Regions from separate parts of the Homo sapiens genome. Here region 2 is linked to region 1. Evidence: fine-mapped expression QTL. A gene starts in region 1. The other region holds a variant in brackets. All regions are shown on one strand. Distances are from middle to middle.

Region 1 (2,901 bases):
ATTTTCCTGGACAGCTCTTTATGTCTCCCGTGGCACCTCCTTTATGAAACTTTTTCTTATCCTCCCTTGCGTTTGTGCCTCCCGTGTGTGTAGAACACATTCTTACCACTTACCTCTCTCAGAATCAGTTCATTCGGGTAGGAACAGGGCTGACTTCAAATCTAATCCCCAAACCTTACCGTGTTGCTGTAAGTGTGCACTGTGAGGCTGGAAAGTCACAAGGGCTGTAGAATGCAGTGGCTGTGGCACAGGATGGGGAGGGCTAGGTTGGCTGGGGAACGATCGGGCAGGGCTTGAATGCCAAGTTAAGGGAATCTGGTCAGTAGTTCCCAAATGAATTTCTGAATCTCTAGGGAAAAACAGTAAAATACACACTTCCCCAGCCTCACACAAGACCCGAAGGGCAGCCAGCGCCCGAGGCGATTCCGAGAATCAGACAAGTTTGGGAACCTGCTAAGCGCAAGCAAAACAAAAGGTTTCCACGCAAATGAGTGAGATGTATCAACTACGTTTTAAAATGCACTCCAGTCCGAGAGCAGACAGGAGGCCACTGCAATAATCCAGACGAGGGGCAGTGAGGCCTGAGAAATGGGAGATAATCGCCTTCATCTCGATTCTTGGCGCCCACCACGCTGTCCCGCTCGGTGGGCCTCCCTTAAGGCACGCAGCTGATCGGAACGCGCTTTCTTACCCGCCTCATGCGACCGTTTGACAGCAGGTCGGCGATCCCCTTGGCCGCGTCGTTTTTTTCGGCCACACAGAGGACTTTCCGCACGCCTCGGAGGGCCATCTCCATGGCGGCGCGGGAAAAGGCACGGTCTTCGGGCCGTCGCAGCCACCGGAGCGCGTAGCGGGCGACAGGAAAGATCATCCTCAGACCTCGCGCCCGGAGCCGCTCCCCGGCTGCCGGCGCATCCTGGGGAAGCCAGAGATGAGGCTCAAATGGCGCCCACCGAAAGGGAACCAGAGCCTCGCTTCGGTCACGTCCCCACCAGCCTGCTGGCCTTTGGAGCTTCAGTCACTGAGCCTTTCCCGTGCCGCAGCCGCCGCCTCAGCACCGAATCCAGTATCTTGGCGTGGAACTTCCGCCCGCCTTCTCCAGCTACTTCCGCCAGGCGCGCGCCCCACAGCGACCTGGAACTACAACTCCCAGACTGTCCCGCGCCCCTCGTCCAAGCACGTTCCCCTCTGCCACCTTCCCGCCGCCCCCGTCTCACTCCGCCCCTCTTTCCCCTCCTTCCCGGCAGTGGTTGGTTAATCGGACTCCTTCTTGCGGGGAGCCGCCAGACACTCCCATCCAAGGCCTCTTTCTCATGACTTTTTAATCTCCTGCTCGGAAGTCTACGAGGACGCTTCCGGGTCACGCGGCGCGGACACCAGGAGTCATGTGATGTCAAGATGGCGGCGCCGCGGTAGCAGGATCCGGGTTGTGGCGTCCTAGGAGCCGCGACGGTTTCTGCCCTCGGGCAGTGAGGGGCAGCAGCGCTTGGCTGACCCCTGCGGCGTCCCGTAGCCTCGCGTTAAGCCTTGTTCAGAGCGGGGGCTTTTGCTGTCGCAGTGGGTTCCGGAGAGTGCAGGTGATTTCGCAGCAGGTTTCTTGTGCTGGCCGCGCTCGCCGGACGAAGAAGAGAAGGGCAGTTGGGCCTGCGGCCTTGGCGTTCATGAGGCCTCAGAGAGCTCCGGAGGAGCTACAACTGTGAGGGGGCTGCTAGAGTTCTTCTCCTCGGGTGTGTGAGAAGCAGCCTAGGACCCCGGGTTCGGGGAGTCGCAAAGAAGGCCGTAAGGGCTTCACTTCCTTCTCCGGAGGCCTGCCTTCTGCGCGTCGATTAACACCGCATTCTTTCCCACTTCCTCTCAATGTTTTCTTCATATATCTGGAAATATGATCAGCGCCCCTGACGTAGTGGCCTTCACCAAAGAGGAAGAGTATGAAGAAGAGCCTTACAATGAGCCGGCCCTGCCTGAGGAGTACTCGGTGCCGCTCTTCCCCTTCGCCAGTCAGGGTGCTAACCCCTGGTCAAAACTGTCCGGGGCCAAGTTTTCGAGGGACTTCATTCTTATTTCCGAGTTCTCTGAGCAGGTGGGACCCCAACCCTTACTGACCATCCCCAATGACACCAAAGTTTTTGGCACTTTTGATCTCAATTACTTCTCCCTGCGTATCATGTCTGTGGATTACCAGGCTTCCTTCGTGGGCCATCCTCCTGGATCTGCCTACCCCAAGCTGAACTTCGTGGAGGACTCCAAGGTGGTGCTGGGAGATTCTAAGGAGGGCGCCTTTGCATACGTGCACCACCTTACCCTATACGACCTGGAGGCCCGTGGCTTCGTGAGGCCGTTTTGCATGGCTTATATCTCTGCAGACCAGCATAAAATCATGCAGCAGTTCCAGGAGCTTTCAGCCGAATTTTCCAGAGCTTCTGAGTGCTTGAAGACTGGCAACAGGAAGGCATTTGCTGGGGAACTTGAAAAAAAGCTGAAAGACTTGGATTACACCAGGACAGTGCTACACACAGAAACGGAGATCCAGAAGAAAGCCAACGACAAAGGCTTTTACTCATCTCAGGCAATTGAGAAAGCCAATGAACTGGCCAGTGTGGAGAAGTCCATCATTGAACATCAAGACCTGCTGAAGCAGATCCGCTCATACCCTCATCGGAAGTTGAAGGGGCATGATTTGTGTCCTGGTGAGATGGAGCACATCCAGGATCAGGCCAGCCAGGCATCCACTACCTCTAACCCTGATGAGTCTGCCGACACAGACCTTTACACCTGCAGACCAGCCTACACCCCAAAACTTATCAAAGCAAAGTCCACCAAGTGTTTTGACAAGAAGTTGAAGACCTTGGAGGAGCTCTGTGACACTGAATATTTCACCCAGACCCTGGCTCAGCTCAGCCA
Region 2 (2,901 bases), 71 kb before region 1:
CTTGCTCCCTGTAGACACCCCGGAGCCACCCGAGGCTGCACTCTCACCCATGTCCATCGACTCAGCCACCAGTGCTGACACCACGCTGGACACGACAGGGGACGTCACAGTGGAAGATGTGAAGGATTTCCTGGGGTGAGGCTGGTGGGCAGGTCCACAGGGGGGGCTGCCCTGTCCCCTAGGCCTCCGTCCCCAGGGCTGCCAGGGGCTCCCCCGCCCCCACCCCTGAGCACCATCCCCATCTCGCAGCTCCTCTGAGGAGTCAGAGAAGAACCTGAGGAACCTGGCAGAAGACGAGGCCCACGCCTGTGCCATCCTGATCAAATGAGGTGCTGCAGGGGTGGGGCCCTGGTCCTCACCACTGGTGACGTCCACCCCCTTCAGCCCGTCTGGGTACCATTTGGCCCTGGTCTTCTACCTGAGACCCTGGCAGGCCCATGTGATGGCACTCTCTGAAACCTGGCTGCCTTCCATGGAGTGCCTCAATTGGGGACTTCTGGTGCTCACACAGACACCAGTGTCATGGTTGGGTATTAGAAAAGCAGGGCCAGCCCCTCAGCCCTTGCATGTGACAGGTGGTGGTTAGGACAAGACCAGATTTGTTTTGTTTTGTTTTGTTTTGTTTTGTTTTTGAGACGGAGTCTTGCTCTGTCGCCCAGGCTGGAGTGCAGTGGCGTGATCTTGGCTCACTGCAACCTCTGCCTCCTGGGTTCATGCCATTCTCCTGCCTCAGCCTCCTGAGCAGCTGGGACTACAGGCGCCCGCCACCACACCCAGCTAATTTTTTGTGTTTTTAGTAGAGACGGGGTTTCACTGTGTTAGCCAGGATGGTCTCGATCTCCTGACCTCATGATCCACCCGCCTCGGCCTCCCTAAGTCCTGGGATTACAGGCGTGAGCCACCGCACCCGGCCAACAAGACCAGATTAAACCACTTAGAGGTGGCAGTAGTTTGGGGCTTGGGAGCTGGTTTGGCCAGCCTGTTTCATAGATGAGATCACTGAGGTGCACGAGGTCAGGTCTCATCGGTTGGGCCCAGCAAGTGGCTGACTTACCCCTGCCTGAGTCTGTGGATCCTCACCTAGATGTGGGGCCCATAGATCTGCCCAGCGCATTTGCTGCCTCATGTTCCCAGGCACCTGACTGTAGGCCATAGCCTCACCCTGCACAGGACATGGACACCTCCCAGCTCTTTGTCTGGTGCCTCTCCCTGGCCTCAGTGGGGCATATGTGGCCTGGCGCTTGGATACCCATCTGGAGACTCAGCAAGCCCATCTCAGGTGGTCACTGAAGGGCCATGCCTGCCCTGCAGAGGAGACAGTGGCAGCACCTGTGTGGTCTGGCCGCTGTGGCAATCCATCTGCCCTTTTGCCCTCCCTCACCTTCTGCTGATACCTCTTCTCTCCCTCTTCCAGGAAGGCCAGAACTATCCCGACCTCCACCTGCCCTGCTCGGAGCTGGAGTGCTGGATCCCTGGCACCTGCCTGGCCCCTTAACATAGAACCACGCCTGCTAACCTGTAGGCTCCACTGGGACCTGCTGTCCTGTCCCGCCTGACCCTGGGCCCTG[G/A]AGCAGCACCAGCCCCAGGGTGTGGGCCTGGGACCTGGGCCAGAACTGAGCCCTCCTGCAGGCATTTGGCTGCCCTGGGGGCCCACTGCCTAGGGAAGAGGACAGGTGGGGCCCAGCACCTGTGCCACCTCCCCCCCTCCACACACCATCCTTCCCCCTCACTTTGCAGAGTATTTTTCCTTTTTTTTTTTTTTCTTAAAGACGGAGTCTTGCTCTGTCGCCCAGGCTGGAGTGCAGTGGCCCCATCTCTGCTCACTGCAAGCCCCGCCTTCTGGGTTCCCGCCATTCTTCTGCCTCAGCCTCCCAAGTAGCTGGGACTACAGGCGCCCACCACCACGCCCAGCTAATTTTTTCTGTATTTTTAGTAGAGATGGGGTTTCACCATGTTAGCCAGGATGGTCTCGATCTCCTGACCTCGTGATCCACCCACCTCAGCCTCCCAAAGTGCTGGGATTACAGGCGTGAGCCACCATGCCCAGCCCTGCAAAGAGTATTTTTCTAGCGCCTGGGCTGGACAGTTGTTTCTAAAACTAAACTATTTTGGTACCTGCTTCTGGGCCAGTCCCCAGCCTGTCATGAGTGTGTGTGTGCGGGCATGGATGTGACTGGGAGCTCTGCTGGGCACCCACATCTGGGGCCTAGTCAGGTGTGTGTGTCCGGCGGGGGGGGGGGGCAGGGGGGGGGGTCAAGATGAGTTTCCCTGTAGATTGTACCTTGGGGTTTTTTTCTGTCGTTTTGTTAAAATTAGCGCCATTTTAATATTAAAAATACTGATTTTTAATATTGAAAATAAAAGCATTTAATATCTCTTAAAGGGCATCCACATCTGCTTTATCCCTAGCGGAAGAGTGAGGGGGCTTCACACGTGCACTCACACTGTGGAGAGAGTTGGATTTCCCAGACCCCTGAGGGCACCTGTCAGGGTCATCCCCATTGGTGCTGCTTGAGGCTACTGGGGACTGTGGCACTGGACGTGGCTGGAGCAGGTGGTGTCACCTGAGTACATTCTTTGCTAGCAGACAGTGGATGAGGCCCCTTCCTCTTCCTCACCAAGCCTGGGGCTGTGCCAGCCTGTCTTAGGCCAGGGCCTTGCAGAAGGCGCTCCAGGCGTGGAAGCAGCGGGTAAAGGCGTGCTGCTCATTGCCCTTGCGGACCAGGCGCAGCCGGCGCGGCCGCTCATGTTCCTTGGACCGCATGTGCTGGATATATACCTGGCAAGGGGACAGCGAGCCTTGGGTGATGACCCTGCCCTGCCCACAGGCCCACCTCGGCCCTCCCTCCACCCAGATTACCTGGCAGGCCTTCAGGCTCAGCTTGATCTCCACCTGGCTAG

What was found.
Region 2: its variant is fine-mapped to the expression of SMCR8 in whole blood (TOPMed, PIP above 0.99).

Annotation. Positions count from the first base shown.
Region 1 is chr17:18,313,908-18,316,808 of GRCh38, forward strand. SMCR8 (SMCR8-C9orf72 complex subunit) reads left to right here and starts at 1,386. Exons shown (of 2, transcript NM_144775.3): 1 at 1,386-2,901. The coding sequence starts at 1,883. It overlaps TOP3A (DNA topoisomerase III alpha), which reads right to left and starts at 1,087. Exons shown (of 19, transcript NM_004618.5): 1 at 692-1,087. The coding sequence starts at 871. RefSeq lists enhancers at 136-659, 607-696, 707-1,056, 1,184-1,707, 1,397-1,446 and a silencer at 1,207-1,256.
Region 2 is chr17:18,242,494-18,245,394 of GRCh38, forward strand. LLGL1 (LLGL scribble cell polarity complex component 1) reads left to right here. Exons shown (of 23, transcript NM_004140.4): 21 at 15-135; 22 at 250-329; 23 at 1,415-2,382. The coding sequence ends at 328. It overlaps FLII (FLII actin remodeling protein), which reads right to left. Exons shown (of 30, transcript NM_002018.4): 29 at 2,861-2,901; 30 at 2,322-2,779. The coding sequence ends at 2,645. Among named protein-coding and RNA genes, the nearest start is that of FLII, 15 kb to the right of the region's middle. The variant G/A (reference allele first, on the strand shown) is at 1,569.